Linked DNA regions of Homo sapiens: region 1 is linked to region 2. A link means that fine-mapping ties the variant in region 2 to the expression of a gene that starts in the linked region. Tissue or cell type: testis. Region 2 holds a variant in brackets; the other region holds the start of a gene. All regions are shown on one strand. Distances are between the middles of the regions.

The links. PIP is the estimated chance that this variant, and not a neighbour inherited with it, causes the effect. A credible set is the group of variants that fine-mapping cannot tell apart.
Region 1: it holds the start of MTNR1B, and the variant in region 2 is the best candidate, but not a certain one, in a credible set for the expression of MTNR1B in testis (GTEx, PIP 0.67).

The regions. Positions count from the first base shown.
Region 1 is chr11:92,968,291-92,971,200 of GRCh38, forward strand. MTNR1B (melatonin receptor 1B) reads left to right here and starts at 1,361. Exons shown (of 2, transcript NM_005959.5): 1 at 1,361-1,658. The coding sequence starts at 1,436. LOC124902733 (a long non-coding RNA gene) reads left to right here. Exons shown (of 2, transcript XR_007062838.1): 2 at 1-625. RefSeq lists an enhancer at 1,909-2,408.
Region 2 is chr11:92,914,178-92,917,087 of GRCh38, forward strand. LINC02746 (long intergenic non-protein coding RNA 2746) reads right to left here and starts at 1,451. Exons shown (of 3, transcript NR_135091.1): 1 at 1,025-1,451; 2 at 846-944; 3 at 1-298. It also overlaps the pseudogene EEF1A1P49. The variant T/G (reference allele first, on the strand shown) is at 1,483.

The DNA of each region.
Region 1 (2,910 bases), 54 kb after region 2:
AACCACTTTTCTGATTTCTATTAGAAAATAGATTAATTTTCCCTGATTTTGGACTTCCTATAACTGGAATAATATGGTATATATTTTTTGGTATCTGGCTTCTTTTGTTCAATACAACATATTTGTGATTAATCCATGCTGTTGTGTAGGTCAATCATCTTTATTGCTGAGTAGTATTCCATTGCAAGGTCATACCATAATTTGCTTATCCATTCTTCTGTTGGTGGAAATTGCAGGTGTTACCAGATTTGAGCTCCTATAAACAAGGCTGCTCTGGACATTCTTGTACAGGTCTTTTGGTGGAAATATACTTTCCTTTTCATTTGGAACTTCTGGTCATAGAATAGGTGTATATTTAACTTTATTAGGAGCTAACAGACAGCTCTTCAAAGTGGCTATACCATTTTGCATTCTCATAAAAGCAGTGTATGAGGGTTCTGGTTGCTTAACTTCCTCCACAAATATAGGATAATCAGTCATTTTGATTTTAGTGATTCTAATGGGTGTGAAAAGTGCTTTGGGGTCATAAGATTAGCCCCCATTAGAAGTTATCTATTATTATTATCACCAGATCACGACTCAAACATTTTTAATAAAGGGCACCTGAGTTCCTTCTTTATTGTAATCATGCCTCAATCTTCTTCTTGTCCTAACCCCTCCAAAAACCACATCATAACCCCCAATATTGGCCATACATCTATTTAAGTATTATGTGTAAATATATGTTGGTAAATATGTTAAAGTATTGGCTTTATAAAGAGGACCCAGTAGAGACATCATCAATGCCCCCCACAATACCCAGCGAGTGCTTGGAAAATGGCTAGGTTCGTATTTTTCTGCAGCTCCCTAGAATATAACAGTCTACCCTACTTTGTTCTGGGCTCTGTCCCCACATCTTAGGAGTTGCATTCTCTTTCGGGCTGCACAGCCCTATGGGACGTCAAACCTTGCCTTTCTTGACAACTGATGGGAGGTCCCTACCATCAGCACCTTCTCCAGTCTATCAACCTGGGTTGGACGTCCCTACCTAGACACAGCTTCTCTTGGGGACGCTGTGGAGGAAATCGGGGTCTCGGGTGTGGCTATATACTCAGGGACAGAAGCTAGACGCGCTCCGCAGCCTGAGGTGGGCCAGGCACCTGCTGGGCTCGGGGTGGCAGAGACAGCTGTGCGGTCCCAGCTGTTCCTGAGCGCACCGCTGAGGGACGCACTCCCTTCTACAACGGCTGCACCCCAAGTCCTCCTCCCATTCCTATATTTTTCTCCATCCCCTGCCCACGCTTAATTAGTTATCTCCTCCAGACCCCTCCCCACTGGCCTCCTCCCTTGCACACGCGAGCTGGGCAGGGAAGAGAGCGCCCGGCTCAGTACTGCGCGCGCCCTGCGGCTGTCCGGGGCCGCGCGGTGGCCAAAGCACAGCGCGGGAGAGTCTGCGATGTCAGAGAACGGCTCCTTCGCCAACTGCTGCGAGGCGGGCGGGTGGGCAGTGCGCCCGGGCTGGTCGGGGGCTGGCAGCGCGCGGCCCTCCAGGACCCCTCGACCTCCCTGGGTGGCTCCAGCGCTGTCCGCGGTGCTCATCGTCACCACCGCCGTGGACGTCGTGGGCAACCTCCTGGTGATCCTCTCCGTGCTCAGGAACCGCAAGCTCCGGAACGCAGGTGAGCACCATTCCTGATGCTGGGTGCTGGCATCGGGCCCTTCCTTGTCTTCTGATCTTGTCCCTGACCCCGGGATATGCGCTGCCTTTTCCCTCCTCAGCCCGGGCTCCCCTTTCCCTTCACTCTAACCTATTCCTTAAGTTTGACTCTGCACTCAAAAGTTAGGGTGAGTTTTGCCCCTCCGAAGTGCGGCTGCCCAGGACGCGCTTGGCACAGAGGGAATTGCGGAAAGTTTTACTGGCGCGCTTTTTGGCCGGGCGCCGGCGCTGTGGGAACCCACGCTGCTGGATGCCATCGCTACCCCGTCGCGCTCCAATGCGTGTCTTTCCAGAGGTGCCCACATCAGGCCACAGAAATCTCACCACCTGTACTTGACATCCCACTTCCTTCCTTGCCAAGCACTGTAGCTTTATGTAGTAGTCGCTTAGAAAATCCTTGCTGAAAAAATGAGTTAATCAATGGAAGCATTTCAGTAGGTTTTGTGTCAAAAACTTATCTCCAGGTCATCTGAAGACCCAATTCCAGTTGACGGAGAGTAAATGCAGAAATTGCAGATTCTGCTTGGACTGAACTAAATTGCTTTGAAATATTGTGGTCTTTTCCGAAGACTGGGAATTCCTGGGATTAACTGTGAAAATTAAAGCAATGATTTGGCTAAATCGTGTTGTAATCCTGAAAATATTTTTCCTATTTCAATCCACTCTCATTTCAATATTCCCCTAGTCAGGTCTTCAAAGAAACAAAACCAGAGTGGGGGGCAGTATCTGAACTCTAGCCCTCACAGGTCATGGGGCATGATGACCACTTCAGCTTAGGAAGGAGCTCAGTCACCTGTTTGTTAATTTTGCAGTTTCTTCAAGTTGGGCCTTGGGAGCAAATTCAAATATTAGAGTGAATTAAAATGGAAAGATAGCAGCAGTAAAACAACCATATAGCTTAAAAATGCTTTTCTAAGGAGTCAGACCATTTTTAGCAAATAGTAATATGTATTTGGTGTGGCCTGTGACTCTAGAAATTTTTTTTTTTTGAGATGGAGTCTCTCACTCTGTCACCCAGGCTGGAGTGCAGTGGCATGGTCTAGGCTCACTGCAACCTCTGCCTCCCAGGTTCAAGGGATTCTCTTGCCTCAGCCTCCCGAGTAGCTGGGATTACAGGCGCTCGCCACTACACCCAGGTAATTTTTTATATTTTTGGTAGACACAGTATTTCACCATGTTGGCCAGGCTGGTCTCGAACTCCTGACCTCAAGTGA
Region 2 (2,910 bases):
CATGTGATCTTGGCACACTGCAACCTCTGCTTCCCAGGCTCAAGTGATTCTCCCACTTCAGCCCCCTCAGGTGCACACTACTGTGCCTGGCTAATTTTTCTTTTCTCTATTTTTAATTTTTTGTAGAGATGGGTTAAATCATATTGCCCAGGCTGGCCTTCTTTTCCTAAGTTCAAGTGATCCTCCTGCTTCAGGCTCCCAAAGTGCTGAGATTACAGGCGTGAGCAACTGTGCCCAGCCCACTGTAATTTTATGGGGACCAAACTTCTGGACATGTGGAGACGGGAAGGAAAAGGATCTGAAAATAAGATAAAAAACATAAATTAATTATTCAGTAAGAGGGAATAGAAGAAGACAGGCCTGGAATAATCTAGTCTCACCACCTGGCTGTCTTGACCAGCAGTTATTCTAGTAAACCTACTGCCATGAGCAAAGAGAAGGCCTTTATCAATATCATCATCATTGGCCATGTGGACTCTGGCAAGTCCACCACCACTGGGCCTCTCACAAATGTGAGGGCATTGACAAGAGAATCATTGAGAAGTTTGAAAAGGAGCCGGCAGAGGTAAGGCTCCCTCTGTGTCTGGAAGTGTGTGGAGGGGAAGCCTCTTTCTTGTGGGTAGTTCTAGCTACAGAGTACAGAAAACCATGCACTCTGCAAGCCTAAAATGCTGCTGTTTGAGGTAGATTTATCTGCTGTCCATCAGTGCATTTATTCTCCCACCCCTTCCCAGGTGGGCGAGGGCTCCTTCAAGTATGCCTGGGTGTTGGACAAGCTGAGGGCAGAAAGAGAACGCAGGATCACCATTGATATCTCCCTGTGGAAGTTCAAGACTAGCACATACTACAGCATTATCATCGATGCTCCAGGCCACAGAGACTTCATCATGACCATGATCAGGGGCACTTCCCAGGTAAAGCAGTCCATGCCTTCAGAAACATTCCTATAGAGGGGGAAACTCAAGATTTATTTCTGAAGCTTGGAGAAGGAAGGTATCATAAGGCTTGTAAGCCTTTTCCTCACCTATGGCCATCATCCATCAATCCTGAAAGAATTAGGGAGGACAGGACTGAAAGTCCCATCACTCTCATGAAGCTCAGATCCTGTTGTCCTGGGGGGGCCTAGAGGGACCAGGTTTTCTTACACTCAGACTAGTAGATCAGTTGGTCCAGAAAGAAGGGACTAAAAGCTGATTTAGATGAGATTAAATGAGAGGAACTGGGAAGCAGGACCCCCATGCACCGCATCTAGGGTGGTCCATGAATCCCATTTGGCCATCTGAGTTCTGGAGGGCATTCCCCAGCTTTACAATGGGATTCGGAACCTCCCAAAGTCAGTCCGATGCCCCCTCCCGCAACCCGGTGTGTTTGTGTATCCCCGCGGTGCAGGCCGACTGCGCGGTGCTCTTCGTGGCAGGCGGCTGGGCGGAGGCCGGCATCTTCAAGAACCCGCAGACCCACGAGCTCGCGCTGCTGGCCAAC[T/G]GGCGGGACGTCACGCAGCTCATCGTGATCTTCAACGAAATTGACTCCACCGAGCCCGCCTACAGCGGCTCGCGCCTCCAGGTGATCACCAAGGAAGTAAGCGCCTGCATCAAGAAGATCGGCTACAACTGGCTGCCTGGCCTTCAGTCCATCTCGAGCTGGCACGGCGACAGCATGCTGGAGCCCAGCACTGACGCGAGTGTGGCGCGGGTCGGCAGGGACAGCCGGGGTGGAGGCGAGCGGACCACACCCCGGACTCACCTCCCCTCGACATCCCGAAGATGCCCTGGTTCAAGTGCTGGAAGGTAGAGTGGAAGGAGGGGAACGCCATGGGGGTGACTCTGCTGGAAGCTTTGAACTCCATCCTCCCAACAACGCGCAGGGTCGACAATCCCCTGAGGCTGCCCCTGCAAGATGTGTACAAGATGGGAGGTGACCCAGGCCTGAGTGGAGCTGAGGGTAGACTACTCTGTTAGGGATTCTGGAGTTGATCCTTAATTGAATCCCCGAGGGAGTCCACAGGTGTATGATTGCCAGGGTTCAAATCCTGACTCCACCTCTTCCCTGAGCAAGGATAAAGTGGAAAAGCACCTAGCATTTCCAAGCTATCCACTACACAGTTTTAAACAGTCAGAGATCCATCTAGTGCTTTCTACCAATTCCACAGGTGGTCCTTTGTCCTTGAACTCAAAAGCCAAGGGGCCTCCCAGGAAGCCAGTTCTCACTGGGTGTGTCTGGGACTGACTTCCCTTCCTGGGTTGAACAGGCATTGGCAGTGTGCCAGTGGGCCGTGTGGAGGGTGGCTTTTTCAAATTCGGGATAGTGGTCACATTTGCCCCCAGCAATGTCACCACTAAGGTTAAATCTGTGGAGATGCACCATGAGGTCCTGGCGGAAGCCCTGTGGTTAACAATGTAGGATTCCATGTGAAGAATGCAACCACTGCTTGGCTCTGCCCTGGGAACTGTGGATGCAAATATGAGTGACACAGCGCCTGTCTTTGAGGGGGCTCCCACTCTGGTAGGGGAAACAGATGACTACAAAGGAGCTATTTCCGTGTAATGAACGAGGGCTGCAAAGGGGGCACACTGGGGAGATTCCCATGTGTATGGGGAGGTGAGGACACCTTCAGAGAGGAGAAGCTGTATCTGGTCTTCAAGATGAGACAGCACCTCAGGGCCCACATGGGAGGAGGTGCTTGCCAGGCAGAAGAATCGGAGGTGGAGTCCTGTGCTCTTTTTGCCTGGAGGGCAGGAAATGGTGGGAGAAAGTATTGGCTAAAGAGGTGAGGGGAAAAGGGAGGATCATAATGCATGAACTCCTCAGGTTTAATTTTCCTACACTGTAAATCTAATTATATAATCCCTTTGCTTAAATTTTCTGATTACTCTTTTTATTTATTTATTCATTTATTTGGAGATAGGGTCT